Homo sapiens: one gene and its partners. The protein of the gene in region 2 interacts with the protein of the main gene of each other region in a biochemical or structural test. Each region holds a gene or a part of one and is shown on either strand. Other genes may lie near its edges.

Region 1 (7,409 bases), on a different chromosome or scaffold from region 2:
AGTTTGAAAATTCTGACAACTAGCAAAGTATATGGAAGCTTCTTCAGGAAATAGTAAACATATTTCTTTTTACAGCCTAATAGTCCCAGTGAATATTGTTTTTATGTGGATAGTGATATGGTCAATGAATTCAAGTTGGAATTGGTAGAAAAACTTTTTGCTGAAGACACAGAAGCAAAGAACCCATTTTCTACTCAGGTATATGAACTTATTTGTTTTATATTAAATTTCATTAATTTTTAGTCTGAAGTGACTTTGAGTTTCACTTGTTTTTTATTTATAAGGTGTGGCCATTGTAAAAACTCATGTATTTGCTGTTTTAAAGGACACAGATTTAGACTTGGAGATGTTAGCTCCCTATATCCCAATGGATGATGACTTCCAGTTACGTTCCTTCGATCAGTTGTCACCATTAGAAAGCAGTTCCGCAAGCCCTGAAAGCGCAAGTCCTCAAAGCACAGTTACAGTATTCCAGCAGACTCAAATACAAGAACCTACTGCTAATGCCACCACTACCACTGCCACCACTGATGAATTAAAAACAGTGACAAAAGACCGTATGGAAGACATTAAAATATTGATTGCATCTCCATCTCCTACCCACATACATAAAGAAACTACTAGTGCCACATCATCACCATATAGAGATACTCAAAGTCGGACAGCCTCACCAAACAGAGCAGGAAAAGGAGTCATAGAACAGACAGAAAAATCTCATCCAAGAAGCCCTAACGTGTTATCTGTCGCTTTGAGTCAAAGGTATTTATATGTAACATTCAAGTTATAGTTCTTTTATTATTTTTGAGATAAATGTATGTGATAGTACATGATTTTTAAACTTATAGCAAACTTTCTGATATATATGCCCTAACGCAAATTCTTGAGAACTCAAAAAACTTTCTAAATTAACCTCATATATTTTTTCTTTTTCTTTCTTTTTTTTTTTTTTGAGACAGAGTCTCGCTTTGTCGCCCAGGCTGGAGTGCAATGGCATGGCACCATCTCAGCTCACGGCAACCTCTGCCTCCTGGGTGCAAGAGATTCTCCTGCCTCAGCCTCCCGAGTAGCTGGGATTACAGGCATGCACCACCACGCCCGGCTGATTTTTTTGGTATTTTTCATAGAGACAGGGTTTCTCCACGTTGGTCAGGCTGGTCTCAAACTCCCGACTTCAGGTGATCCGCCTGCCTCAGCCTCCGAAAGAGCTGGGATTACAGGTGTGAGCCACCATGCCCGCTCCTATTTTTTCTAAAATAATTATAAATTCTAAAATTACCTATCTAAATGGAGGAGGGTCTTCTGACACCTTTAAAATAAAATCCAGCTCAGTACTGTAAATGTGTTTACAGAACTTGTTTAAAGTTCTTACAGTTGTTTAAATCAGACTAGTTAACTACCCTCACTACTTAGATGCTTCCATTTCTTAGAGCTCTTTTTTAAGCTTATCTGAAGAAAAGCCCTTCCAATTTAAGGGTTATTTCCAATTGCACATTCCAAATTGAGCCTTCCATCTTCAGCATTCAATATAGATATTTACAGGCCCCTCTTTTAAAATTTTATTATAGTTAACTTGTATTAAAGTTGCTTTTATTTTTCATTACGTATTTGTAGAACATTAGCTATATATATATTGCAGGCTACATAGGTTTTCAAACTGTACAACAGGAATCTAAGCATGAATTGTTACTTCTATGGAGCTAGTTCAAACAAACATATGGACATGACCCAATTTTTAAGTTATACTTTCTGTATATAATTTGTAAGGGGATTTCACATATTTTAAGTTTGAGGCTATAGCTAGAAGAAATTAAGTTTTATCTAATAAGTGTGTGGAAAAGGGAAATGATTCCTTCTCTACTATGTCTAGACTAAGCCAGATATCAATAGCAATAGGAAAGAACCACTGTCGTAGCCAGAACACATAGCTTTTTTCCCTGCCTAACATTCCCACCTTGACCTAGAGTGCTGGGAGAGGTCTTTTCCCTAAGCTTGGAAAAGACATTGGGGCTTTAGATGAACTCAGAAGTACTTTACATTACTTTATTTACTGTGTCACTTACTCACTTTTGACTCTGAGCTCCACGAGGGCAATCACAGTGTCTTGGGCATTTTAGTGATACTAATACTTAGCTCATGACCTAATGTGTAGTACTTCCTCAATAAATGGTTGTTGAGGCAGGGCGCAGTGGCTCATCACTGTAATCTCAGCACTTTGGGAGGCTGAAGCGGGTGGATCACCTGAGGCCAAGAGTTTCAGACCAGCCTGGCCAACATGGTGAAACCCGGTCTACTAAAAATGCAAAAATTAGCTGGGCGTGGTGGCACGTGCCTGTAATCCCAGCTACTTTGGGAGGTTGAGGCAGGAGAATTGCTTGAACCCTGGAGGTGGAGGCTGCAGTGAGCCGAGATCGTGCCATTGCACTCCAGCCTGGGCGAGAAGAGTGAAACTCGGTTTCAAAAAAAAAAAAAAAAAAAAAAGTTGTTGGACTGACAGATGCATGAATACAGTAGTAAAAATGACAATCACTTATAAGTTACAGTTTACTATCAGCTACAGAGGATGGGATATCCAGTTTTCTGAACAACTGTTCTCTTGTACTTGTCAAAGCCAAAGTGTAACAACACATCAAGTCACTTTAGCAATTTATTTTTGAGACGGAGTTTTGCTCTTGTTGCCCAGGCTGGAGTGCAATGGCGTGATCTCGGATCTTGGCTCACCGCAACTGCCGCCTCGCTGGTTCAAGCAAATCTCGTGCCTCAGCCTCCCGAGTAGCTGGGATTACAGGCATGCACCACCACACCCAGCTAATTTTGTATTTTTAGTAGAGACAGTGTTTCTCCAGGTTGATCAGGCTGGTCTCAAACTCCCGACCTCAGGTGATCCACCTGCCTCAGCCTCCCAAAGTGCTGGGATGACAGTTGTGAGCCACTGTGCCCAGCTAGCAACTGTTTTTAAACATTAGTTCCAATGTAGTGTACACTGAAAACTTTTATGAAAGGAATTTCAAAAATTAAGATAAACCATTAAAAACGTAATTACTAAGTACTACTACTACTACAATGATATTTACATAATAGACTGAGTTACATTTCATAAAGACAATATATCTGTATAAGAATTTTTAAACTTCCCTGTCTATATAATAGAAGTTTTAGAGAAATTTTTTAAAAACCAAAGAAAACTGCAAAATAAGATCACTTACCTATTTGGCATTCTCAACTGTCTGGAACAGCAAGGAGCCATTATGATTATGCATTTGGTTTGTGGGGTGTCTTGAAAAGTCAAAATAATGTAACAAAGCTGATGTACTTTACTCATTAGAACAATTCTTCACAATTTAATATTAATTTTAGATATACATAGTTCATGTTTGATAACCAGATCAATACTGAGTGAAAAATAGCATAGTGGGAAGAGCAGGGGAGGGGAGGTAGGGATCTGGAGACCTAGAGTGTACTTCCATATTGCAACTAGTGAGCAGTAGGACTTTGAGAAAGTTACCCAATAGGCCTCAGGGTTCTAATTTATAAAATGGGTATGATATGCCTGCCTTATCTGTCTTGGGAACTTAAGTAAGGTTAAAATGAACTAATGAACTTGAAATGTTTTATAAACTGAAAATGCTATACGAATGTGAGATTGATCTTGTATTTCAATAGTCCCAACAATATCACTGCATTGTTATATTAGGTGGAATAAAAGGACAATATTTAACTGTTTTGACTCTACAATAGTGTCAATTTAGTTGTGTTCAGCTCTATTTTATAAAATAGGGATACGCATACTGTAGAAAATTTCCTGTTAAATTAAGCTTTGACGGCCAGGTGCTCACGCCTGTAATCCCAGCACTTTGGGAGGCCAAGGTGGGCAGATCACTTGCGCTCAGGAGTTTGAGACCAGCCTGAGCAACATAGTGAAATCCTGTCTCTACAAAAATATGTATATATAAATTAGTCATAATCCCAGCTACTTGAGAGGCTGAGGTGGGAGGATCACTTGATTCCAGAGGCAGGGCTTGGTTGCAGTAAGCAGAGATCACGTCTCTGCACTCCAGCCTGGCTGACAGAGTAAGACCGTGTTTCACCAAAAAAAAAAAAAAAAAATTAAGCTTTTACTTTTAAGATGATAAACTTTAGTGATCAGGAAAGTTATCTTATGTATATTATATTCCTTAATATTGGAGAACTAAAGAATTATGTATTTTCTTTAAAAGCGCTCACTGGATATTTTTTTTAAAAACGCTATATTTTCATTTAGAATTTTTTTCTTTTCAGAACTACAGTTCCTGAGGAAGAACTAAATCCAAAGATACTAGCTTTGCAGAATGCTCAGAGAAAGCGAAAAATGGAACATGATGGTTCACTTTTTCAAGCAGTAGGAATTGTAAGTATGAGTAGTAGGTTTTGCTTTTCTAGCTAATGTGCTATTTCGTGTGTGTGTGTGTGTGTGTGTGTGTGTGTGTGTTTCCACGTTTCTTCCAAATAGTAAAGTTATATTTTCAGAAGTTATACATTGGGTTTTTTTACTCTGTATGCACTGGTTTTTAAAAATACAAATGTTTAATACATACATTCTTGGTATAAAAATTCCAAACAATTCCAGTGTATTTTGAGTTAAAAAGTGAAGTTCTCCCCTTACTCCACCCTGAATATCACCACCAATCTCATTCTCTTCCCTTTAAGTTACTTTGCCTTATTAAAAGAACTGCTATTGGCCAGGCACAGTGCCTCACGCCTGTAATCCCAGCACTTTGGGAGGCCAAGATGAGGATCACTTGAGGTCAGGAGTTCGAGACCAGCCTGGCCAACTTGGTGAAACCCTGTCTCTACTAAAAATACAAAAATTAGCCAGGCGTGTTGGTGCACAACTATAATCCCAGCCACTCTGGAGGCTGAGGCAGGAGAATAGCTTGAACCCGGGAGGTGGAGGTTGCGATGAGCTGAGATCAGGCCACTGCACTCCAGCCTGGGTAAGAGAGTGAGAGTCCATCTCATATTTAAAAAAGAACTGCTATGTTTTGGGGTAAGTCAATGGTGGTATAATACATTCTGATATTTTCAAACTAAATTAACTGGAAAGTATTTATAGACAGAATGGTCATAATGGATGACAAATAACTTAAGAAAGAATTCAAAATAATTTAGGGTAGTATTTAAGAAACTGCCTATAATGTTATTAAATTTACACCAATTTCAAGGTTTTTGGTTGTTTAAAAAAAAAATTCAACAAACTAAACTTGAAATAACTTTACTGTTTATAGGGAACATTATTACAGCAGCCAGACGATCATGCAGCTACTACATCACTTTCTTGGAAACGTGTAAAAGGATGCAAATCTAGTGAACAGAATGGAATGGAGCAAAAGACAATTATTTTAATACCCTCTGGTTAGTTTATTCTTTTTGACCTTGAACATCACAAAGACAAAATACATGAAACATTTTTATTTAGGAGCTTTAATCTAAGTGAGAATGACTTTGGTTCCTTAGCAAGATTAAAAAGTAAAGTTGTGGCTGGGCGCGGTGGCTCACACCTGTAATCCCAGCACTTTGGGAGGCCGAGGCAGCCAGATCATCTGAGGTCAGGAGTTGGAGACCAGCCTGGCCACCATGGTGAAACCCCGTCTCTACTAAAAATACAAAAATTAGCTGGGCGTGGTGGCGGGCGCCTGTAATCCCAGCTACTTGGGAGGCTGAGGCATGAGAATTGCTTGAACCCGGAAGGCAGAGGTTGCAGTGAGCCAAGATGGCACCACTGCACTCCAGCCTGGGCGACAAGGGTGAGACTCTGCCTCAAAAAAAAAAAAAAAAAAAAGTACAGTTGTATTTCATGTGATGGTCTTAATACAGAGATTAACATTTCAAGGTGGAGCTTTTCATTTTTAGTAATTTTCTTTGATTTCTCTATGTCCATGTGCTGTCAATATTGATAGAAGCTGAAATTTGTGAACTTTTATGACTTCTTTTTTTTTTTTTTTTTTTTTTGAGACAGGGTCTCGCTCTGTTGCCCAGGCCTGGAGTGCAGTGGCATGATCATAGCTCACTGCAGTCTCAAACTCCTGTGCTCAAGCTCAAGCAATCATCCTACCTCAGCCTCCTGAGTAGCTCGCACTACAGACATGCCTCACCACACCCGGTTGCTTTTTGTAGAGATGGGGTCTCACTATGTTGCCTAGGCTGGTTTCAAACTCCTGGCCTCAAGTGATCCTCCTGCCTCAGCCTGTGCTAGGATTACAGGCATCAGCTTTGATGCCCACCATATTTATGCCTTTTTCCAAATTGTTATTTCTTTGTGCCTTTATTGTATCCTGTAAACATTTCTGACACAGCAACAGTATCACTGGATTATACTTACTTTTTAACATAGTTGTGGTTTTGCCAGGTAAACTAAAAACCCTTCCAGAATTTTGCTTTATTTTCTATGATACCTAACACATTGTGGGTGTTTAATAAATATTCATTGACTAGATGAATGTATACTTAGGTATCTCTTTTGTTTTTCAGATTTAGCATGTAGACTGCTGGGGCAATCAATGGATGAAAGTGGATTACCACAGCTGACCAGTTATGATTGTGAAGTTAATGCTCCTATACAAGGCAGCAGAAACCTACTGCAGGGTGAAGAATTACTCAGAGCTTTGGATCAAGTTAACTGAGCTTTTTCTTAATTTCATTCCTTTTTTTGGACACTGGTGGCTCATTACCTAAAGCAGTCTATTTATATTTTCTACATCTAATTTTAGAAGCCTGGCTACAATACTGCACAAACTTGGTTAGTTCAATTTTGATCCCCTTTCTACTTAATTTACATTAATGCTCTTTTTTAGTATGTTCTTTAATGCTGGATCACAGACAGCTCATTTTCTCAGTTTTTTGGTATTTAAACCATTGCATTGCAGTAGCATCATTTTAAAAAATGCACCTTTTTATTTATTTATTTTTGGCTAGGGAGTTTATCCCTTTTTCGAATTATTTTTAAGAAGATGCCAATATAATTTTTGTAAGAAGGCAGTAACCTTTCATCATGATCATAGGCAGTTGAAAAATTTTTACACCTTTTTTTTCACATTTTACATAAATAATAATGCTTTGCCAGCAGTACGTGGTAGCCACAATTGCACAATATATTTTCTTAAAAAATACCAGCAGTTACTCATGGAATATATTCTGCGTTTATAAAACTAGTTTTTAAGAAGAAATTTTTTTTGGCCTATGAAATTGTTAAACCTGGAACATGACATTGTTAATCATATAATAATGATTCTTAAATGCTGTATGGTTTATTATTTAAATGGGTAAAGCCATTTACATAATATAGAAAGATATGCATATATCTAGAAGGTATGTGGCATTTATTTGGATAAAATTCTCAATTCAGAGAAATCATCTGATGTTTCTATAGTCACTTT
Region 2 (8,321 bases):
AGCCTGGGCAACATGGTGAAACACCATCTCTACTAAAAACACAAAAATTAGCCAGGTGTGGTGGCAGGCACCTGCAGTCCCAGCTACTCCGGAGGCTGAGGCAGGAGAATTGCTCGAACCTGGGAGGCAGGGGTTGCAGTGAGCCGACATGGCGCCACTGCACTCCAGTCTGGGCGACAGAGTGAGACCCTATCTCAAAAAAAAAAAAAAAAAAAAAAGACCCAACTCAAGTATCATCTCCAGGAAGCCTTCCCCTACTCCCAGCAATTAAATGCTCCTCAGAGAATTCCCATTTTTGGTTTACTCTTTGGTTTACCTCCAGACAGGAAGCCCCCACTGACACTGTTGTAGTCCCAGGGTGCAACACAAAGCAGAGATCACAAGCTGAGTTTAATAATTGCTTGTGGAATACATGTCCCAAGCCACCTCCTGCAGGAAGCCCTTCCAGATGCCCATTCTAGCCAGTCTGGCTCTTTGCTTCCATACCTTCACAACACTTGTGCCTCCCCCAGGGCCTCTTTCTCATCTTGCTTTCTGGGGCAGCTGTGTGCACATTTGTCTGTGTGCAGCAACTCTCTAAGGCAGGGATTTTTACTCCTATTTTTGATGAGGGGAGCTGTGGCTCAGAGAGGTTGAATAACCTAAGGCCACACAGTGAGTGGCAGAGCCAGGAATGTGACTTGGGTCCATTTGAATCCAAAGTCCCTGTACTTTCCACTGCCCTACCTAGATGTCCCTGTACCTCCTATAAAATCAGCATGGAGCCTGGTGCCTGGTAGTCCCTACAAATATTCACAAATTGGAGCTTAGCTCAGCTCTCAGGCAAGGCCCAGGTCAAAAGGGCAGATACAGCTTTGGGACCTTAGTTGCCACCACATGCCATACCTTCTTCCCAGCAGAAGGACTCCCTCCAAGACAGGGTAGGGGTGGAGGATGTGAACAGGGGCAGAAATGGGCATGTTTTGGGGTCAGACTTGGAGGAATAGCAGAGATTGGAGTGTCAGAAGGTGAGCATGCCTGGGGGTGTTGGGGAGATGCAATTCATCAGGGACAGCTTAGTGTCAGGGGATTAGACTGGGGCCCATGAAGGAGAGGCAGAGGCTGATGGGCCTAGGGGTGGTGTGGGTAGGTGAGCTTCCCCAGACAGTGACTCTGCCCTGCCCTCTCTCCAGCTAGGTCCTCTTCCCCATTCCTTCCCCCTTTCCTGACTGGATCCTCTTGGGAGAGTTACCCTCCTTGGCTTCCTCTGCTCCAATCTTTTTATCAGTTGGCCATCATTACTTATCATTACCTCAAGTCAAACCTCCAGATCCACATGGGGCTAGGACATTGGCACTGGACCAAAGAGGCCCTTTCCTTTGCTTTCTCTTTGTCTTTTTAATGCTTTGTTGCAAAGACCTAGGCGGGGAGAGAGAGAGAGAGAGAGAGACAGAGATTGACCCACAGTCAGGGTCAGGGAATTGAGGGGAACCAACCCAATTCTCTCTCCTTCAATTCACCAGGTTTGTATCCTGCCCTTCCTGCAGATCAGTGTCCTGCTAGTCACCTGGGGGTCAGGGGATGGAGTGAAGGACAAGACCTCCTTCCATTGCAGTGAAGCCACTTGGAGAAATGTGTGGAAAACAGCAAGACCCAGTGACTCTCTCCTCACCTTCTTTCCAATCTCAGGAGAGATTTTGTCCCTTCATCCACCGGCTTCTAGATTAACCACCCACACCCACACAGGCGAGAGTTTCCCTGAATATTGGAGGTGACAGGACATCAGGACAAAGTACAACTATTGTGCCTTGGCCCAATCACTACTTTCTTTGTCTGGGGCCGCCGCTGGCTCCTGGCTGCCTTTCGCACTTTTCTCCACCCCCACCCCTTTCTCCCCTTCCCCCTCACCTGGAACACCTTCCCCTTCCTCCTTGGCTCCTTCTGAACTGCCTTCAGAGCCACAGACTGTGGGGAGTGGCCACTGCGCTCCCAAGGTGAGGCCCTCCAAGCGGGGCCGAGTTTGCCCCTCAACTGGGAGCCAGCATGACCTCTGTGTGGGCTGCTCTCTGCTTCACTGCCCCTTCCCCCAATCTGCTAGGTGACCCTGGGCCCCTTTGTGCCCTCTCTGGGCCTTCGGAGGATTCTTTGGGGAGACAGTCTGCTCTGACGCCCCTTCCCCTGCAGCAAGCAGCCTGGGGAGGGAGGTGAGGATAAGTGAAGTCAAGTTGTTCAGGGGGCTAAGCCCATGGAAGGGAAGATGCCACAGAGATACATGTGGTCTTGTGATTGTTGTTTTGTGCTTTTTCCCCTTTTTTGAAAGCTCAGGTGACTAGGTGACTTGAGCTTTTAATTTGGTGACAATGTGGGCACTGGCTGAGTCCTTAAGAGTACATTGTTGTAAATGCCGGTGACAACACACTGGGGCATGGGATCCAGAGTTAACCCCTCCAGGTCACAGCCAGGTTATATCTCCACAATGAAGGGGGGAGGTGGGCCATACTTTCTCGCCCTAATGAAGGTAGCTCAAAAACCCCTAGGCCAGGTTGTAATCCTAGCCTTATATAAAAGGAATTCTGTGCCCTCACTCCCCTGGATCCCTGGGCAAAGCCCCAGAGGGAAACACAAACAGGTTGTTGTAACACACCTTGCTGGGTACCACCATGGAGGACAGTTGGCTTATGGGGGTGGGGGGTGCCTGGGGCCACGGAGTGACTGGTGATGGCTATCCCTCCTTGGAACCCCTCCAGCCTCCTCTTAGCTTCAGATTTGTTTATTTGTTTTTTACTAAGACCTGCTCTTTCAGGTCTGTTGGCTCTTTTAGGGGCTGAAGAAGGCCGAGTTGAGAAGGGATGCAAGGGAGGGGGCCAGAATGAGCCCTTAGGGCTCAGAGCCTCCATCCTGCCCCAAGATGTCTACAGCTTGTGCTCCTGGGGTGCTAGAGGCGCACAAGGAGGAAAGTTAGTGGCTTCCCTTCCATATCCCGTTCATCAGCCTAGAGCATGGAGCCCAGGTGAGGAGGCCTGCCTGGGAGGGGGCCCTGAGCCAGGAAATAAACATTTACTAACTGTACAAAGACCTTGTCCCTGCTGCTGGGGAGCCTGCCAAGTGGTGGAGACAGGACTAGTGCACGAATGATGGAAAGGGAGGGTTGGGGTGGGTGGGAGCCAGCCCTTTTCCTCATAAGGGCCTTAGGACACCATACCGATGGAACTGGGGGTACTGGGGAGGTAACCTAGCACCTCCACCAAACCACAGCAACATGTGCTGAGGATGGGGCTGACTAGGTAAGCTCCCTGGAGCGTTTTGGTTAAATTGAGGGAAATTGCTGCATTCCCATTCTCAGTCCATGCCTCCACAGAGGCTATGCCAGCTGTAGGCCAGACCCTGGCAAGATCTGGGTGGATAATCAGACTGACTGGTCCCACTCTTCCCACAGGCCTCAGAGCCCCAACTTTGTTCCCTGGGGCAGCCTGGAAATAGCCAGGTCAGAAACCAGCTAGGAATTTTTCCAAGCTGCTTCCTATATGCAAGAATGGGATGGGGCCTTTGGGAGCACTTAGGGAAGATGTGGAGAGTTGGAGGAAAAGGGGGCTTGGAGGTAAGGGAGGGGACTGGGGGAAGGATAGGGGAGAAGCTGTGAGCCTGGAGAAGTAGCCAAGGGATCCTGAGGGAATGGGGGAGCTGAGACGAAACCCCCATTTCTATTCAGAAGATGAGCTATGAGTCTGGGCTTGGGCTGATAGAAGCCTTGGCCCCTGGCCTGGTGGGAGCTCTGGGCAGCTGGCCTACAGACGTTCCTTAGTGCTGGCGGGTAGGTTTGAATCATCACGCAGGCCCTGGCCTCCACCCGCCCCCACCAGCCCCCTGGCCTCAGTTCCCTGGCAACATCTGGGGTTGGGGGGGCAGCAGGAACAAGGGCCTCTGTCTGCCCAGCTGCCTCCCCCTTTGGGTTTTGCCAGACTCCACAGTGCATACGTGGGCTCCAACAGGTCCTCTTCCCTCCCAGTCACTGACTAACCCCGGAACCACACAGCTTCCCGTTCTCAGCTCCACAAACTTGGTGCCAAATTCTTCTCCCCTGGGAAGCATCCCTGGACACTTCCCAAAGGACCCCAGTCACTCCAGCCTGTTGGCTGCCGCTCACTTTGATGTCTGCAGGCCAGATGAGGGCTCCAGATGGCACATTGTCAGAGGGACACACTGTGGCCCCTGTGCCCAGCCCTGGGCTCTCTGTACATGAAGCAACTCCAGTCCCAAATATGTAGCTGTTTGGGAGGTCAGAAATAGGGGGTCCAGGAGCAAACTCCCCCCACCCCCTTTCCAAAGCCCATTCCCTCTTTAGCCAGAGCCGGGGTGTGCAGACGGCAGTCACTAGGGGGCGCTCGGCCACCACAGGGAAGCTGGGTGAATGGAGCGAGCAGCGTCTTCGAGAGTGAGGACGTGTGTGTCTGTGTGGGTGAGTGAGTGTGTGCGTGTGGGGTTGAGGGCGTTGGAGCGGGGAGAAGGCCAGGGGTCACTCCAGGATTCCAATAGATCTGTGTGTCCCTCTCCCCACCCGTCCCTGTCCGGCTCTCCGCCTTCCCCTGCCCCCTTCAATATTCCTAGCAAAGAGGGAACGGCTCTCAGGCCCTGTCCGCACGTAACCTCACTTTCCTGCTCCCTCCTCGCCAATGCCCCGCGGGCGCGTGTCTCTGGACAGAGTTTCCGGGGGCGGATGGGTAATTTTCAGGCTGTGAACCTTGGTGGGGGTCGAGCTTCCCCTTCATTGCGGCGGGCTGCGGGCCAGGCTTCACTGAGCGTCCGCAGAGCCCGGGCCCGAGCCGCGTGTGGAAGGGCTGAGGCTCGCCTGTCCCCGCCCCCCGGGGCGGGCCGGGGGCGGGGTCCCGGCGGGGCGGAGCCATGCGCCCCCCCCTTTTTTTTTTAAAAGTCGGCTGGTAGCGGGGAGGATCGCGGAGGCTTGGGGCAGCCGGGTAGCTCGGAGGTCGTGGCGCTGGGGGCTAGCACCAGCGCTCTGTCGGGAGGCGCAGCGGTTAGGTGGACCGGTCAGCGGACTCACCGGCCAGGGCGCTCGGTGCTGGAATTTGATATTCATTGATCCGGGTTTTATCCCTCTTCTTTTTTCTTAAACATTTTTTTTTAAAACTGTATTGTTTCTCGTTTTAATTTATTTTTGCTTGCCATTCCCCACTTGAATCGGGCCGACGGCTTGGGGAGATTGCTCTACTTCCCCAAATCACTGTGGATTTTGGAAACCAGCAGAAAGAGGAAAGAGGTAGCAAGAGCTCCAGAGAGAAGTCGAGGAAGAGAGAGACGGGGTCAGAGAGAGCGCGCGGGCGTGCGAGCAGCGAAAGCGACAGGGGCAAAGTGAGTGACCTGCTTTTGGGGGTGACCGCCGGAGCGCGGCGTGAGCCCTCCCCCTTGGGATCCCGCAGCTGACCAGTCGCGCTGACGGACAGACAGACAGACACCGCCCCCAGCCCCAGCTACCACCTCCTCCCCGGCCGGCGGCGGACAGTGGACGCGGCGGCGAGCCGCGGGCAGGGGCCGGAGCCCGCGCCCGGAGGCGGGGTGGAGGGGGTCGGGGCTCGCGGCGTCGCACTGAAACTTTTCGTCCAACTTCTGGGCTGTTCTCGCTTCGGAGGAGCCGTGGTCCGCGCGGGGGAAGCCGAGCCGAGCGGAGCCGCGAGAAGTGCTAGCTCGGGCCGGGAGGAGCCGCAGCCGGAGGAGGGGGAGGAGGAAGAAGAGAAGGAAGAGGAGAGGGGGCCGCAGTGGCGACTCGGCGCTCGGAAGCCGGGCTCATGGACGGGTGAGGCGGCGGTGTGCGCAGACAGTGCTCCAGCCGCGCGCGCTCCCCAGGCCCTGGCCCGGGCCTCGGGCCGGGGAGGAAGAGTAGCTCGCCGAGGCGCCGAGGAGAGCGGGCCGCCCCACAGCCCGAGCCGGAGAGGGAGCGCGAGCCGCGCCGGCCCCGGTCGGGCCTCCGAAACCATGAACTTTCTGCTGTCTTGGGTGCATTGGAGCCTTGCCTTGCTGCTCTACCTCCACCATGCCAAGGTAAGCGGTCGTGCCCTGCTGGCGCCGCGGGCCGCTGCGAGCGCCTCTCCCGGCTGGGGACGTGCGTGCGAGCGCGCGCGTGGGGGCTCCGTGCCCCACGCGGGTCCATGGGCACCAGGCGTGCGGCGTCCCCCTCTGTCGTCTTAGGTGCAGGGGGAGGGGGCGCGCGCGCTAGGTGGGAGGGTACCCGGAGAGAGGCTCACCGCCCACGCGGGCCCTGCCCACCCACCGGAGTCACCGCACGTACGATCTGGGCCGACCAGCCGAGGGCGGGAGCCGGAGGAGGAGGCCGAGGGGGCTGGGCTTGCGTTGCCGCTGCCGGCTGAAGTTTGCTCCCGGCCGCTGGTCCCGGACGAACTGGAAGTCTGAGCAGCGGGGGCGGGAGCCAGAGACCAGTGGGCAGGGGGTGCTCGGACCTTGGACCGCGGGAGGGCAGAGAGCGTGGAGGGGGCAGGGCGCAGGAGGGAGAGGGGGCTTGCTGTCACTGCCACTCGGTCTCTTCAGCCCTCGCCGCGAGTTTGGGAAAAGTTTTGGGGTGGATTGCTGCGGGGACCCCCCCTCCCTGCTGGGCCACCTGCGCCGCGCCAACCCCGCCCGTCCCCGCTCGCGTCCCGCTCGGTGCCCGCCCTCCCCCGCCCGGCCGGGTGCGCGCGGCGCGGAGCCGATTACATCAGCCCGGGCCTGGCCGGCCGCGTGTTCCCGGAGCCTCGGCTGCCCGAATGGGGAGCCCAGAGTGGCGAGCGGCACCCCTCCCCCCGCCAGCCCTCCGCGGGAAGGTGACCTCTCGAGGTAGCCCCAGCCCGGGGATCCAGAGAACCATCCCTACCCCTTCCTACTGTCTCCAGACCCTACCTCTGCCCAGTGCTAGGAGGAATTTCCTGACGCCCCTTCTCTTCACCCATTTCCTTTTTAGCCTGGAGAGAAGCCCCTGTCACCCCGCTTATTTTCATTTCTCTCTGCGGAGAAGATCCATCTAACCCCTTTCTGGCCCCAGAGTCCAGGGAAAGGATGATCACTGTCAGAAGTCGTGGCGCGGGAGCCCACTGGGCGCTTTGTCACATTCCACCGAAAGTCCCGACTTGGTGACAGTGTGCTTCCCTTCCCTCGCCAACAGTTCCGAGTGAGCTGTGCTTTAGCTCTCGTGGGGGTGGGTCAAGGGAGGATTTGAAGAGTCATTGCCCCACTTTACCCTTTTGGAGAAATGGCTTGAAATTTGCTGTGACACGGGCAGCATGGGAATAGTCCTTCCTGAACCCTGGAAAGGAGCTCCTGCCAGCCTTGCACACACTTTGTCCTGGTGAAAGGCAGCCCTGGAGCAGGTGTTTTTTTGGAACTCCAAACCTGCCCACCCAACTTGCTTCTGAAAGGGACTCTAAAGGGTCCCTTTCCGCTCCTCTCTGACGCCTTCCCTCAGCCAGAATTCCCTTGGAGAGGAGGCAAGAGGAAAGCCATGGACAGGGGTCGCTGCTAACACCGCAAGTTCCTCAGACCCTGGCACAAAGGCCTTGGCTACAGGCCTCCAAGTAGGGAGGAGGGGGAGGAGTGGCTGCCTGGCCACAGTGTGACCTTCAGAGGCCCCCAGAGAAGGACACCTGGCCCCTGCCTGCCTAGAACCGCCCCTCCTGTGCTCCCTGGCCTTGGAAGGGGTATGAAATTTCCGTCCCCTTTCCTCCTTGGGGCCCAGGAGGAGTGGAGGGTCCCGGGAGAATATTGTCAGGGGGAAGGCAGGGGGTGTCATGGGAATGGGTGAGGGGGCTGAGGTGCAGAATCCAGGGGGTCCCTGCAGGAGCCGCAGTGGTAAGCTGTCCAGCTGGAAGCCTGGTAACTGTTGTTTTCTCTTGAGAGGGGCTTCCTGTGACCTTGGCTGTCTCTGGGAGCAGGGCTGGGGTACCTGAGTGGGGTGCATTTGGGGTGTGTGGGAAGGAGAGGGAAAGAAAGATGGACAGTGGGACTCTCCCCTAGCAGGGTCTGGTGTTCCGTAGGCTAGAGTGCCCCTCTGCTCTGCGAGTGCTGGGCGGGAGGGGAGTTGGTGAGAGCTGGAGACCCCCAGGAAGGGCTGGCAGAAGCCTTTCCTTTTGGGTGCTGTCAGGTCCGCATGTCTTGGCGTGTTGACCTTCACAGCTTCTGGCGAGGGGAGGAATGATCTGATGCGGGTGGGGAGGGTTAGAGGAGGCCTCAGGCCTAAGGTGGTGCAGGGGGCCCCCTAGGGGCTGGGCAGTGCCAAGGCATAAAAGCCTTCCCTGGTCCCTGGTGGCATTTGAAGGTGCCCAGGTGAGAGGGGCTTGGCACCT
Region 3 (7,960 bases), about 33 Mb from region 2:
TTCTTTAAAAATGAAAAACCCCAAAAAAGGAAAAAGGAAAAAGTATGTGTGAGTGTGTGGGTGCGTGCGTGTTCCTTAATCCGTGTCTCCCCCTCTTTTCTTAGCGGCGGCTTCGCTTGAGCTTCTAATAACCGCGCTGGGCAGCGTTCCTGGAGCCTCCTAATAGCAGATATTCATGACTATTAATATTACACGAATACTTAATAAGGGAAGAATGCCTGGAAATCGAGCGTGAAGCGGAGAGGCAACTCGCGCCGGAGCCGGCTCTCAATGCAGTCCATTGACGGGAGTCTCAGTGTAGCAAATCGGAGTGGGGAGAGGGAGCGCGAGAGACAAAAAGCGAGCGAGAGAGGGAGCGGGCGAGCGCGCGGGGGGCCGCGGCGCGGCGTCTGGCGAATCACAGGGAAGGGGCAACATTTTAAAAGGTTGCAGGGCATGCAAAAGTGAAAGAGAAAGAGGCAGAGAGGGAGACCGAAGGAGAGAGCGCAGAGAGGGAGAATGTGTCTGCGTGCGTGTGTGAGAAAGAAAGTGTGGGCGAGGGAGAGGAGCCCCGGGTGGGGAGAGGGGAGGGAGGGAAGGAGGGAGAGCCCGAGAGGAGGAAGGGAGGGAAAGAGGGAGGGAGGAAGGGAGGGAGGGAGGGGGAGGGGGCCCAGCCGGAGCGCACGGAGGGGGAGGCCGCGGGGGAGGGGGAAGGGGAGAGGAAGCGAGCGAGGACAATCAGACCTAAAAGGCTGGGGCAGACCTCGGGATGCAGCGGGGGTCGTGCGTAGCGGGTAGGAGCTGCTTGGGACCGCGTCCGGGCGCTCGTGGGGCTCTCGGCGCGGCAGGCGCTTCCCGGCCCTGTCTGGCCGCGGGCTCCGCCGCTTCGCAGCCGAGTCTGGGACTCGGGACTCGGCTGCCCGCTGCTGCGCGGCTCCTCCATGACCCGGCGCCCTGCCCGGGACCGGCCCGCTCGCTGCACTGGTCCTCTCCTCGGCCTCCTCTTGAGCTTTCCTCGGACAGGGGCACCGTGCGCTCCCCGGCCACCGTCGCTCTGCCCTCGGCTCTCTGGGGCCGGGGATTCCGGATCGGGAGCCGGGATGCGGGCCGGGGCGCGCACAGACGCTAGGCGGCCCAGCCCGGGCGCCGCTGGCACCGGCTCGCGGCTCCCGGCAAAAACCCGTCCGACTGGCTGGGCCACTCCCGCCTGACGCCCCCCCAGATGACACGACTAGCTCTCCCGGCGTGCTGCCTTTGCCAGTCTACCCGCCAGGTTGTCAGAACAAGCGGCACCTCGCCTCCTGCGTGTCCCTACAGAGCCCCGGCACAATCAGACTGCCCCAAGCCAGCTCCGAAACCCGAAATCCCCGCTCCGGCGCTTGCCCACCACGGCCAAAGTTGTGGAAACAGCTTTGACTTTATTCTCCTCTCTCTCTCATCTTTTTTTGCCTCGCTTACACACGCATTCACACTTGCCCCCACAGGATCCCTCTAGGGGTGCAAGTTCATCCCCCACCTAGCCACCCACCCCATCCAGTCGGCACCTAGAGCCGCACGGAGGTTCGGACCCCGCCCGCCGAGGGCGCCCACACCTGGAGCTGGGTTTCGGCCTCTGCGAAAGTGAAATGCCCAAGCCTCCGGCCAAAGCCCAGACCAGTACAGTATGAATTGTCCTATGAGACTGAGGGGTTCGGCTTCATTCCTACCTGCCCGCAAAGCTCGCCCCCAGCCTCGAAAACAAAGCGACTGGTCTGACGTGGGGTCCCTGCGCCCCTCCTCTAGCGCGACAGGACCCCCCCAGGGAAGAGCCAGTACCCGTGGGATGTCACCCCGTCCCCATCTACCGGGGTGGGGGGCCTGAAAGGAGAACGATTTAAAATAATCTTCAGAAAGAAAAGGGAGGAGGGAGCGGGTGACACATCGTTCACATAAACCCAATTTCTGGTTTCGAGTGAAGTCAAGATCTCCGCCCCTGCGCCTGCACACACACCTCCTGCCTAACATTCTCAGCTGCAAATGCCAAAAAAGAAAAAAAAAAAAAACAGCAAAAGTTGGGACTGCCACCTATTTATTTAGGTAATCTCCAGCCCTACACACCCCAACCCCTCTCTCGGACTCATTGCTCATTACAGTGTTGGTTGTAACCGTTCCCAGCGCCTCCTGCGGGTGGACAGGTCGCGCTAGGGTCTCCCTTGCTGCCTCAAGAAGGCGAGCTCAGGGGACTCTGCGTTTTAAAATGGGTTCCAAAGCGGCGCGCTCTGTCGGCCCAGCGGGCTTGCGGCACCAGAGGTGGTCTGCAGCCGCGCAAGGATTCCCACGGTCGTTCTGGGCTGGTGCAGAAGCTGGTGCTCCCGCACCCAGCGGCCAGCAGGCTCGGCGCAGCACATCTCCCCACCCCACCCCCACACACCCCCGTGGGGTGCGTCGATCCTGTAGCTCAGAGGGAGAAGCTACTTAGAACTTCGTGAAGCACAGAGGATCTGGAGCGAGCCCCGCAGCTGGGATCAGTGGTCTTAAGTTGAACCCGCTTACAGGAAGATGCAGCCCAGCTCACAGCGAAGTGTGGGGGGGCCGTCTCTAAAGCCGAGAAGGGAACCGCTTTAGAAGTGGGGGTGGGGGGAAGAAAGAATGAATGAATGAATGAATGAATGAATAGAAAGAAGAAGGAATATTAAAGATCGGAGAGGAAGTTCAAGAGAGAAAAGAGTTTTCTCTTTCCTTTCTGTTCCTGGTGACTTGGGCCCTCAATCTCGATGAAGATAACACGAGGAGTGCACAGGCAAGTGCCCAGTTGCCAGCAATTGCTTCAAAAGCCCATGTTCTTCTTTTCCCCCATTCTTAGGCACAGCCAAAATTGGTCAGAAAGGGGAGTAAAGTGGGACACGAGCTTCAAAGTAGGGAAACCAAAGAAGGGAGCATCCACGTCCTCTCTCTGCAGCTTCTCCCCCGCGTTCTTCGGGCGAATCCGAGGGACGGGCGCTGCGCTGGGGAAAGTTTGTCCCACCCGCGTTTCGCAGCTGGTTGCAAGGAGAGGAGGAGGAGAGGGAGGGTCAAGCTCGGAGCCTGTGACCGCACGGATGATCGAGCCGGCGTCGCGCTTACCTCGCAGTCCTCGTACTTGATATTATCCGTCAATTTCCAAAGCATTTTCATGGATCGGCGTGAACGGATATGCCCCTCTCGGTCTCGCACCCAAGTGGAGCTACTCTCTGGGTGAGCGCAAAGTGCTGGCTGCCGGCGGTGAGCGCAGGAGGAGGAGGAGGAGGGAGAGGAGGTGGAGGAGGAGAAGGAGGAGGGAGAGGAGGAGGGCAAGGAGGAGGAGGAGGAAGAGGAGGGCGAGGAGGAGGAGGAGGGCGAGGAGAAGGGCGAGGAGGAGGAGAGAAGGGAAAGAGCTCCCGTGTGCGCTCGGAGATCTCCCTCTAATGGTAGAAACTTTTCCCTTTTCCAGCTCTTTACCAACAGCCTAATCGCCTCATTAGCATATCAACAATAGTCCAATTGCTCGCCAGTACCACAATCTGCCGCCGGCCGCTCCGACACAGGTATAAAGGCCTCTCTACGCCGCGAACTTGCTTCTAGAGCGCACTCCAGCCTGCGAACTGATAAAACCTTCCTCGAGCTCCGCCGCGAGGCCCTGCCCCAACACCCCCTCTCTTACCCCAATTCCGCCACATTCCCCTTCCTTTCTTTCTCCGCTTCCTTTTCTCCAGAGATGCCTTCTGCAAAGCCCGGCACTGCTCAAGGTCCAAGCGCCACGCCTGGGGCCCAGCTTCTAGCACTTCTCCCTTAACCCTGCTACCACGATCCGAGCTGCCCTTTTGGCCCCGTGCAATTTTATTAGAAATCATTATCCCTTTCGCAATTAAACATAACCACCAAACCAAGACCGGCGAAGTCACTCCAGGATTTTTTCCCAACAAGGGATCGCCTCCGCTCGAGGCAGCCACCCCCTCGGGCCGCAGCGCCTTGGGAGTTTTATTGGCTTTGAGCTTTCCCCCAGGTTGGAGATTCTGCCAAGCGGCTCCGGTGGCTCTGCTGGGGTTTGCAATCCCTTAATTGCAGCGTGTAAAATAAAAGTTGTACCCTGAAGAGGTTACTTGACAGCTCCAGGGGTTAAACAATTTTTCTCCTGTTTGTGTGAAGCTAGGGCCAACTGACAGTTCAAATTGGTGTTCAGGCTAAGGTTTCCTGGGTGCAACGTGGACACGAATACAGAACTCCTATGGAACTGCACACCCGCTTCTGAAGTTGAGCCTAAAAACAGACGTGTGTGTGCCTGCAAGTCTAGATACCGTCTCGTGCGTGCATCAAAATAAATCACCGGGAACCGACTTTTAGCTGTGTTAATCTGCTCTAGTTTTCCCAAGATTCCCCTTTTTAATTAAAGCAGGGAGAGTTCCTTCATGATTTGGTGATGCTACTAACGCGGGCGTGCTCGCGAGGCAGAGCCCGGCTGCCGCGGAACCTGGAGGCCTGGGAGCCACCTACTCGTCCAGACTGGTCAGTCCGGGCTTTTGGACTCCTCACCGGGGCCTGCTGGGTCCTCTGGGGCTTTTATCCCTTTCGGTTTTGGGATTTTTTTTTAAGTAAGAAAAAAAAAAAAGAAAAGGACCTAATGTGACACTAGGAAATACAGAGTAATTAATTTTCCTGGCTGAGCTTCCTCGTTTGTCCTCCAAAAGAAAGTTACCTCTGTCTTTTCTCTCTGCTATATGTACAAACTCCTTAACTACACTAGGTCCCGCCTCAGAGTTGCTCTAGTAAGGACCTTTGATTCATCTGGGCTTGTTTCTCGAAAATCTCCAGGCCTCCCATATTTCCACCGGGCGTTCCTAAAAGGGGATGGGAACTGTGGCAGATTGGAGCATTCCCTCACAGGTGGAAGGAAGGCAGGAGCTGGGAGAACTCCCCATTCCACCCAAGGCTGCAGAAGGGGAATTCTCCCTCCAAACACCTCAGCAAACTCCCCAAACCTAGCAGAGTAGGCAGAAGGCTCCAAAAAGCTAGGGAGAAGCCGGAGCTGGCAAGGGGCCTTACAGACCCAGGAAGCCCTCCCCATGCTCTGGGCCTCCCTTGCCCTACCTGAACTGAGCACAATTCCTCGGCTGAACCGGGCTGGAGGCTTGGCGCCGCCCTCCGTCCAGAAAATGGTCGACTTTCCAGGGCTAGACCCTGCAGGGCTGTCCCAGCCTGTCGCCAGTGCAGTGGTTTGAAGTCAGGATCTGGGCTGCCAGGAGCACCGACACCCTCCCAGCAGCGGCCATAGCCTGAGCAGGCCAAACCCTAGGCCTGAGAGCATGGGTTTTTACACTCCGTAGACGTCGCCGCGGTGTGCTTAAGGGAACTCCAAGTTTCGCTTTCTTGCCCTCTGCGGGCTTGGAAAGGCCGCCCTCCATCCTCTGCCACCCCATTTCAACCCCCGTTTCCACCTCCCCGCTGCCCCGCGCCCAACAGATCTCCGGCTCCGCACCCGCTGGGGCTGCTAAACTGTTGTTGTATTCCCGCCGAGGGCGCCATTGAGGTGCAGATTGGGACCTGCCGGCTCTGGACTGCCGCCCCCGGTGTAGGCGCTGATGAAAGGCCCGGGCGAGCGCCAGGGTCGCCTCTGGAGCCAGCCGAGCTGCATTTATGCCAGCGTCATTACCACGCTAAGTCGCTTCATTGCATGTCAATGCTCCGGCGGGGCCAGAACCCCGGGACAGCAGCGCCAGGCCTGGGGTTGGAGGTCGGAGATCCAGGCCTGACGTGGGGGGCATAAAAAGGGCGTCGCGGGGAAGAGGGAGTATTTGTGTGAGAGACAGAGTCACAAAGAGAAAGAGACAGTGAGGGGCCAGAACGACTCTCTTTTCTCCGATTGTCAATGCCCAGTGGGAGCCGGGAGCCCAACAGGCCCAGCCCATCAGATTCGGCCCCTCCGGGCCCCAAATCCGCTCGCCCCACCCGAGATCCAGGCCTCCAGCCACTTGCCTAACTGTGAGCCCGCAAGAGCCAGGCCCGCGGCTCCCTCCTTCCTCCTCCTGCGGCAGTCTCGCGGCTTTCAAACCTTAGTCGAACCCACAGAAGGCCCAGTCCCAGGCCAAACCTACTCAACAGGCACCTTCTCACGGCCTAGGAATTCTGCAGCGAAATTCACTGGAATTTGAGGAGAAAACCCAAAGACTGCTCCGAAAGGACTCCCCCAGTCTTCAGCCTCCAAATAAGAGAGTTAGGAAGGGCCTTTAGCCCACAGGGTCAGGAAGGGAAAGGTGTGGATTCCCGGGATTTGTCTCTGGTATGGGATTTGCATCCTTAAACCACGAGGTTTGTCTAAACTTGCGGATGAAATACCATTTAGTGAGGCTTAACTAGGGAGAAGAATATAAAAGAGCTCACTCTTGATAAAAGTAATAAATCCAAGGGAAAAAAGTACAGAACGCAAAAGGCCTTTCTTTCTCCAACTCCAGGTAGCTTAGTGAAGACTGCACTTCTCAGAACTTTACTTTTAATGGCCTAAATCTGAAACAAGAGAAAGAACTCGACCAGGAGTAGCAAGGCCTCAGATTTTTGGGGGGAAGTTCAGGGCATTAGATTCGAATTGTCCCCTGGGCTTTTGGGCACACAGAATCTCACCCTCACCAGGCCTCTTGGTTGGGGCGAAAACAGGGCCTCGCGGTTCTGATGATGAAATCGGCGACAGGCAGAGCCTTTTACCGCCACCATCCTGGCCAGAGCCGCTCTGTTTCCCGAAGGGAAAGTGTCTGGAAGTTGGAAGGAGAGAGCTGGACAAATGCTTCCTTGGCCAGGGTCGGAATCCGGGGCTCAGGAAGGACAGGAGCCAAGCCTTGGATGCCTTGTGGTGTCCGCGGCCTAGCAGGGCCAAGTTCCACAGGCGTTGGTTTTGGCAAATTCACCACCCCCCTGCCTCCTCACCCACCATTCTCACACTCCCTCATCCGTAGCCCAGGCGGCAAAAACCCATTTCAGGAAGTGGAGTGAGTTGCTAGCTAAACTTCGGGCAAACTTTGTATCTCCTACAGAAACACGCTGCCTCCGCGACCCAGCCATCTGGACCCCTTTCCATTCTTCACACATCCTAGATCTCCCGAAATCTGGGGGTACCAAGAGAGACAGGTGCACCAGAACCTGTCCAACACTCAACCCTGGGGTCTAGGGCGAGGCCGCAGGCGCAGCAGGCTGAAAACCTTCACCGCCGCGCACCACAACCCCAGGCCTTCTCCCTCCCCCCTTCCGAATTAGTCATCCTCCCAAGTTTCTACTTGAGGTGGGAGGGGGGTGGGGGAAACGGCCACAGCACAAACCACAAGTGACCCACCAGGCCACCTGTGGAGCGTGCGCCGGACTTCCCCGGCGCCGGGCCCCGCGGGCTGCGCGCTTTGCGCCCAGCACCGCAGTCGCTGCCTGCGCCCGTTTTTCCTGTCTTCGCTGTCTCCTGGGAGCTCTCCTGGGCGCTGCCAGGCGCGCCTCACCTACGACTCCCCTGCCCTGGGCCACGGCGCTTCCTCTCCTCCTCCCCGCTCCGGCCCCCTCCCCTACTCCACCCCTGCCCACCTCAACCCCAGCCAAGGCAAACCCCCCGTACCTGCCAGTCCCCCATTTTGGCAAGTATGGACATCGCGGCTCTGCGCTCCTGGCGACTGGTCCCCGCCGGGCATGGGCTGGAGGGCTCGGTCGGGCCAGCTCCCTGGAATCGCTTAGGCAAATCCTCCTTTTTTACCTGCTCACCAACATCTCACCTGGTCATAAAGAGCTGGGTTGCTACCTGCCGACGCATGCGCGCTGGCCCAGGAATTCACTCCGCCAGCTGCAGTCCCAGCGCCGCACAGAGCTGACCTGGGAAGTGATGGATTTATAGCCGCGGCAATCTTGCCATCAGCTCCAGCTTTTCCCAACAGCCCCAACCCGCTTTCCCGGTCAGTCCCTGGCCCGGGAACCGAAGCTGACTGACTGCTGGATGTGCTGGGTGCGATGCGAGTGTGAGTGT
Region 4 (7,409 bases), on a different chromosome or scaffold from region 2:
AGGAGTTGCAACTAAACTATTAAGCCTTATCATTCTTGTGAAGATTTGCTAAATAGTGCAGCACTAAGCAGATTCCCTTTAATAGTATGAAGAAGCAAGCCTTTATTCATTGCTCCTTTCTTTTTGCCCAATTTCTTCGATGGATCCTATCAAATTATTGCCGCTTTAGGGATTATATATATTCAATATATTATATAATAAAAGCTTTGTAAGTTGCTGAAGTGACCAAAACCCCCATTACAGCCAACAGACCTCCTTTGTCTTAAATTGGCCCAATAGGCTTATCCCATTTTGTTATAATTAACATCCTATTATATAATGATGTATAACAAAAGTTTCAATGTAGCAAATGGAGCTGAAGACTAATTACTGTGCTATTACACTGCCATTAGTAATGCTATTTGTAATTATATATCAAGAACTAGGGAATATGAATTGGTTTTCTATGTCTTACATCCACCTAGTACAAGACCCATAAAGACCAACTCTGAAATACTAGGCCAAGTCTCTGAATCTCATTGAAGTCCTTTAAGTCATTTCAGATATTTTAAAAGTCAGAAACATCTACTTGTGATAAAGCAAAGAATTATGGCTTCTATGGTTCATTAACAATGCATTCTTAATTAAACTTATTCTGATCAAAGTTTTCAGAGGCCTGCTGTTTTGTTTATACACCCAGATATTTGGAATTATCCAGATGTCTGACTTTCCACTGTTCATCAAAATGTTTCGGTATGGCATCTATAGCTTGTAAGCTGGGTCTTCTTAGCTATCATCTTTGGATTCTGCATTATTTGTGGAGTTTTATAGGTATCAAGCAGCCATTATGAAGGACCTAGGGTAGGTGACGGGGCAGACACAGGTAAATTGGGCTGATTGTATGCCCTGTTGCACCAGAATACGCATTTCCTATGATGTGCCGAGAGGCCACACCGAAATTCTAGGTAGAAATGAGCAAAACAAAGACCATCATATTGGCAAGAGTCTTGCCCTGGGCAAGCACTCCATTGGTTTCTACAGCAGCTCATACTTACTTGCACAATCTTCTTGTGAAATGTGGTTATTAATACTAATGTCATCCACAGCAATCCCACCAAGGTTTCCTTTTCCGATTTCGCCCTCGAAAATCACCTAACAAAATAAGATCATTTTCACAGTATTGAAATGCTCATCTCACATGGCAGTGTTTACAAATGCTTGTTCAGCTCCAGCTACGGCACATAAATTAAATTCATCAGATTCAGCGTAACACAGACTTCACTCATCAATCCACATTAGCTGCCTGGTGATGGTATGCACCTTCTCCTTACACTCTCTTCTTATAATACAAACTTTAAAACGGGAGAAAGCAGCAAACAAAAGGAATGATACATTGTGAAAGCCCAGAAATAGATGACACGGAAGCCCTTTGTGTTCCTTCTCAGCAAATTGGTTCTATTCCTGCAATCTAGGAGACTGTGAAATCTGCTATTAAGGTGGTTATCATTGCAGCAATATCTCAGGGTTGGGAAACACTGGAAATAATTTCGGAATAATTCCCATGTCTCATTTGCACAGCCTCCAACATATCATCTCAGCATTCCTGCAGCCACTGCCCTCCCCAGCCTTGGGAAGAGGTCATACCTGATAAAGTTTCAGAGACTTGTGGAGCAAGACACGCCCTTCCTTCCAGTGGTCACCTTGGTGTCCAATGGCCATCCAGACCAGCTGATCGTACTCCTCTGGCTTCTGGTAGCGCAGTTTGACCCTGAGTGTGCCGACGTGGGACCCAGACATGTGATACCAGAAGGTCATGCAGTGGGCAGAGTTCTGGGAATAAACCACAGGGCTCACCAGGCGAGCCACTTTGCCCTTCTGATTTTCGTCAGCTTGGGAATAGATGAAGTTGCCATCTCCTGCTGTGACAAAGAACTGTGTTAGGGAGAGTGGCCAGGATTACCACACTTTTATCTCTCTTCTTTCAAGTCTCACTAATCAAAAGCTTCCTGCGCTGAGCACCAAGAACCCAAATACGTAGTGGAAAGGGATAAGTGTGCACACTTGGGGACCTCATGGGCACCTAAGGCCCTGCTCTCAGCTCTTGCAAAATGGACATTTGATTAGGGGAAGGCTGAGTGGCACTAATTAGGATACTACTTATAATGGAATGCATTTTCATATGGACACATGCTATGCCTCAAGCTGGCATTTGCACCATCACAAGCAAACTGAAAGCAAAGTCTGTGCATAGACTGGACTGAAAACTCCTGGCTCTTAGAGAAACCTTATTTATTTATTTATTTATTATGTTAGACACTCCTGTTGCCCAGGTTGGGATGCAGTGGTGTGATCATAGCTCATTGCAGCCTCAAACTCCTTGGTTCAAGTGATCATCCTGCCTCAGCATTCTGAGTAGCTATGACTACGGGCCCATGCCACCATGCTCAGCTAGTTCTTAAAAAGATTAATTTTTTTTTTTAAGTAGAGATAGAATCTTGCTATGTTGCCCAGGCTAGTCTCAAACTCCTGGCCTCAAGCAATCCTCCCACCTTGGCCTCCCAAAATGCTGGGATTACAGGCATGATCCACCACGCTGGGCCCAAGAAACCCTGTTTTTATGCAACTTTAAGATCACACTGCGGCACCCATGTGAACACATGCATTAAATGAAATCATTGAGATGTATTTTTATTTATCATTTGAGCAGCAGGACTTCTGATTAATGAAATTTCTGTCACTATGACTGCTTGATAATCATAAACCTGTAGTTTTTCCTAATAATGTAGTAATCTTTTTTTTTATACTTTTCAAGTTCAGATTATTTTTCCCGTAGTTTGTTTTCATGGTTTTCGAATTCCTTAAACACACCTGAGAGCTTGAATCTCTACTGTGAGCCCTGCTTCTATTTGATGTGGGCTTCTGGCTCAAGGAGAGGCAAGGTTGCCTTGTTGAGGTTCATTAGAACGTGCCATTTTGGCAACTTAGACACTTGCTGAACTGCGAGGACTTTCTCTTGGCTTCGCTTTTAATGACCCCCACTGGGAACATTTCCTCCTGCCACCACCTGGTCAACACAGCTCATGTTTCACTGTTGGCTCTGCAAATAGAAATCATCTTCTCTAACACCTCACCTGATTAAGTGTGAATCTGCTGCTCGGGCCTCAGTGGGCAGCAAGAGGTTGTGTTTGTTGCCCAAGAGACTTGTGTGTTTGCAAGGTGCTTTCTCACTGTGCACACGTGGGCACATACTCCTTTCCGCTTGCCTGTGTCAACAGTGTCCAGGTGGATGTGGACGTGTTCATGGGCAGCTTCCTTTCCTTACCTGGTTGCTTATGTGAGAGCCCGCCCTTCTTCAAACCAACGGGTGGAATCATAAAGGAAGGGTGTTCACAAATGGCAGCTCTAGCAGTAGGTTTGATACTGCAGGATGAATGTCCCTCTCGCTCTCTGACCTTGCAGGTGTCCTCTGTGACTGAGCTGATCCATTCACACTTAGGATTTGTTTTGCCCACTAATTTATCAAGATGTGATTACTTGTCTGTGGGATGGTGCCATTTCACTGTGATGAATCCACCACGATGGGAAAAAAATACACCCATCGTGCCTCTGTCCCCTCAATCTTACGGAAAAAAGACTGAAATTGGCAATGCTGCTGCCATGTCTTAATCCCACTTATTGAGCTCATTGCTCAAAGTTTATTGAGGCTAGTCAGAGAATGGGTGTTAGAAAGAAGGAGAGAAGTGGACGTAGGTAGAGGGATGCTCTCCCATAGGACATCCTCACTCAACTGCACCATAATCACTTCCCATCCACAACTAGACAGTAAGTTCCTCAAGCACAGAGACCCCCTCCTTCATACCTGTATTTCCAGTGCCCAACACAGCACCTGCCATGTAACAGGGCTTCTCAAATGATGCCTGTTCAGTGCAGTAGGAGAGATGCCAGATTTCAAGAATCCTCTGCCTGAGGAAGTTCTTATGGTCCCTGCCTTCTCACACTGTGGTCTTTAAATATGCTCGTGTGGCCGGGCGCGGTGGTCCACGCCTGTAATCCCAGCACTTTGGGAAGCCGAGGTGGCTGAATCACCTGAGGTCAGGAGTCCGAGACCAGCCTGGCCAACATGACAAAACCATGTCTCTACCAAAAATACAAAAATTAGCCGGGCGTGGTGGCGGGCATCTGTAGTAGCTCCTACATAGCTGTAGTCCTAAGTAGCTGGGACTACAGCTACTTAGGAGGCTGAGACAGGAGAATCGCTTGAACCTGGGAGGTGGAGGATGCAGTGAGCCAAGATCACACCACTGCACTCCAACCTAGGCAACAGAGACCCTGTCTTAAATATATATATATATATATATATATATAAATTAAAACTGCTCGTGTTGCTCCTCTGCTTAGAATTCTTCAGAGGCTGCTCACTGCCTGCAGCCTATCCACACTTCTTCACAAAGAGGGAGCGCTGGCAGCCCCTCCAATGGACCTTTTATCCACCCCCATCCTGTTTTCCTCCTGGTCACTGCATCACCAACTTAAGGTATAGTATAAAGAACCAGCAGTGTCCTGCCAAACACACACACACACACACTCACTCACAATAAACACCCGATCCACAAACTTCTGCTCTACTCAGTGAAAATGGAAGGAATCCAATTTCATCAATTTCCTTGTCAATCTCATTAGGCAAGGAGGTAGTTCCCAAAGTCATGCACACTCTGCCTCTATCTAACTGCTTCCCATACAAAAACCTGTGCAAAGCACACCAAACATGAGCCAGTAAAATAAGCCTAGCTCAGCCGGTGTCTGAGACAGGGCTGCTTTCCTTGACCCCTCTTCCGTCATCTTTTACATGGTCCATTGTCACTGGCCTCTGCCATTGGAAGCCCTCACTGAACTGCACTGTGGTTGCTTCCCAACCATGATCAGACTGCGAGTTCCTCAAGCGTAGGGACCTCTTCCTTTACACGTGTATTTCCAGTGCCCAAGTCAGCATCTGCCCTGTAACAGAGCTTCTCAAATACCACTTGTTCACTGAACCAGGGAGAGATGCCAGACTTCAGGAATCCTCTGAAAGGAGGTACCTAGTTCCATTCTTTGAGGTCAAATGCAGAAAACCAAGCAAATGGGATGCCTTTCGATAAGCAGCAGGATATTTTACCTAGCTAGTGTTCATTTTCTTTTTAAACAACCCAATGTCTGGCTTGCAAAGTTTCACCAAATAATATTATAAAAAAAGCACCATCTACTCTCTAATGTCAGTCTATGCGCGGGAGCTTCGTGAAGGGCTCTTTTCATCTGGATCTTTTTCCCGTTAACAAGTAGTTCCTGCCTTTCAGATGTCGGGCTCACCCATCTCTCTACACAAATGATTGTGTTTCTAGAACTGCAGGGGCTCTTTCTAGTCGGAGCTGACCTGGCACAACTGCCAAGTAAATCTGGGTGGCTGAGAGAACAAAAGAGTCAAACCCTTCTGAAGGAATCGCACTTCTCAGCTGTTAATCTACGACAAGCTCTCCTTCTCTGATACTCTAACACATAAAGCACTGATATTTTCCCTTTCAAGGGTTTTATCACAGTTCTGGGTCAGGAACTCTGTCTTCATTTTCTCAATTAGCACTTTACTTCTGCAAGCCTTTTAGCTTTTGTCTCTGGCTAACATAGCTTTTAACCTCCTTTGAATGTCAGATCCTACTGAGCCATTTTGCTTCACTTTGCATCAATTTTTCCACCATTACTGCCTTCATTTTGGCTAATTGCATTTAGTTAATTTGATGCCATTTATATGTACAGTGCCATTTACAGTCAAAGTATTTTAAGTTTTCTAAAACTGCCTGTCTTAAGATTCAATTGAAAGTGTCTCAGATTTGAAGGAGTCCAATTTTATCCAATTTCCTTGTCATTCTCATTAGGCAAGGAGGTGGCTGTGGTGGAAGGAGGCCTATTCAACCTATTTAATGGTTATATTCACTGGGAGAAAAGTGAACCACAAAATGGGAAAGGCATGAAGTACCCTTGGCCCAGCCTTCAGTCCACTGACTCACTCACCCAAAGAGCCAAGATGGGGAGAATTTAATGAGATTTCCTAGCATCAGCAAATGCCCCCCTGGGGTACCTTTTGGGAAGCCACTACTTGAGCAAGCAGTGCTCTGTAAGTATTTCTGAGTGGGTGCAGAAGTTCATGGATTGGGCGTTTGTTGTGAGTGTGTATATGTGTGTGTGTGTATGTGTGTGTGTGTGCATGTGTGTTGGGCCAGACATGGCTGGTTATTTCTTTATTTTTAATTTTTATTTTTTTCTCTTTAGAGACAGGTTCTAATTCTGTCACCCAGGCTGGAGTGCAATGGTGTGATCATAGGTCACTGCAGCCTTGAACTCCTAGGCTCAAAGGATCCTAAAACAGACTCTGAGTAGCTGGGACTACAAGTGTGCGCCCTTATGCCTGGCTGATTTTAAAAAAAAAATTTATTTTGTAGTGTCAGTATCTTGCTATGTTGCCCAGGCTGGTCTCTAACTCTCTAACTCAACTGATTCTCCTGTTCTGGCCTCCCAAAGTGCTGGGATTACAGGTGTGAGCCACCACGTCCAGTCTGCTGGTCCTTTATACTGTACTTCAAGTTGGGCAGTGAAATGACTAGGTGGGTAGCAGGAAGGGGGCAGATAATAGAGTTCACTGGAGAAGCTGCCAGCTTTTTCTGTCCCCCAACCCATTCCTCCCCCACCAATTAATCTTAGGAAGAAAGTAAGGCAGGAGGTGGTGGGAGGGTTGTGATCTAGGGCATGGTGAGGTTTCTACCTGCTCAAAGGAAATACACTACACTTTCAATCTTTCCCCAGTGAATAAGAATTCCACACCGTCTTTCCCCACCTCCCCTTCAAGGGTCGGGAGAGAGCAAGCATTGTGAATTGTTTCTTTAGTTGTAAAATAAACGAGGGGACATAATATATGCTTGGACTTGTTTGAAAATAATTCAGAGTCAGGGATGACAGACATAAATTAAGTTTCCTATGATCTGATAATTGTTGAAGCAGGGTCGTGCACATAGAGAATTCATTCTACTATTTCTTTTCCATTTGTGAATATGTTTGAAATTGCCCAAAATAAGAAGTTCAGAAAAAGTATAAGATGAGGCTAGTTGCGGTGCCTCACACCTATAATCCCAGCACTTTGGGAAGCTGAGGTGGGTGGATCACAAGGTCAGGAGTTCGAGACCAGCCCGGCCAATGTGGTGAAATCCCGTCTCTACTAAAAATACAAAAAATTAGCTGGGTGTGGTGGTGTATGCCTGTAATCCCAGGTACTTGGGAGGCTGAGGCAAGAGAATCGTGTGAAGCCAGGAGGCGGAGGTTGCAGTGAGTGGAGCTAGTGCCACTGCATTCCAGCCCGGGCAACAGTGTGAGACTCCATTTCAAAAAAAAAAAAAAAAAAAAAAAGG

What was found.
Region 1: the proteins of VEGFA (region 2) and HIF1A form a complex in vitro, tested with the Homo sapiens proteins (one study listed by BioGRID).
Region 3: the proteins of VEGFA (region 2) and TFAP2A form a complex in vitro, tested with the Homo sapiens proteins (one study listed by BioGRID).
Region 4: the proteins of VEGFA (region 2) and NRP1 form a complex in vitro, tested with the Homo sapiens proteins (8 studies listed by BioGRID, with this or other methods).

What each region holds. Positions count from the first base shown.
Region 1 is NC_000014.9:61,740,430-61,747,838, forward strand, and holds part of HIF1A (hypoxia-inducible factor 1-alpha), read left to right. Parts: intron 1-75; coding exon 76-198; intron 199-325; coding exon 326-759; intron 760-4,275; coding exon 4,276-4,384; intron 4,385-5,261; coding exon 5,262-5,388; intron 5,389-6,504; coding exon 6,505-6,656; 3' UTR 6,657-7,409.
Region 2 is NC_000006.12:43,765,283-43,773,603, forward strand, and holds the start of VEGFA (vascular endothelial growth factor A, long form), read left to right. Parts: upstream 1-4,928; 5' UTR 4,929-5,424; coding exon 5,425-6,030; intron 6,031-6,685; exon of another isoform or gene 6,686-6,819; intron 6,820-8,321.
Region 3 is NC_000006.12:10,411,860-10,419,819, forward strand, and holds the start of TFAP2A (transcription factor AP-2-alpha), read right to left. Parts: upstream 3,216-7,960; 5' UTR 3,133-3,215; coding exon 3,082-3,132; exon of another isoform or gene 2,822-3,081; intron 533-2,821; exon of another isoform or gene 1-532.
Region 4 is NC_000010.11:33,184,594-33,192,002, forward strand, and holds part of NRP1 (neuropilin-1 isoform a precursor), read right to left. Parts: intron 1,899-7,409; coding exon of another isoform or gene 1,896-1,898; coding exon 1,624-1,895; intron 1,132-1,623; coding exon 1,035-1,131; intron 1-1,034. UniProt on the Homo sapiens protein: Cell-surface receptor involved in the development of the cardiovascular system, in angiogenesis, in the formation of certain neuronal circuits and in organogenesis outside the nervous system. Mediates the chemorepulsant activity of semaphorins.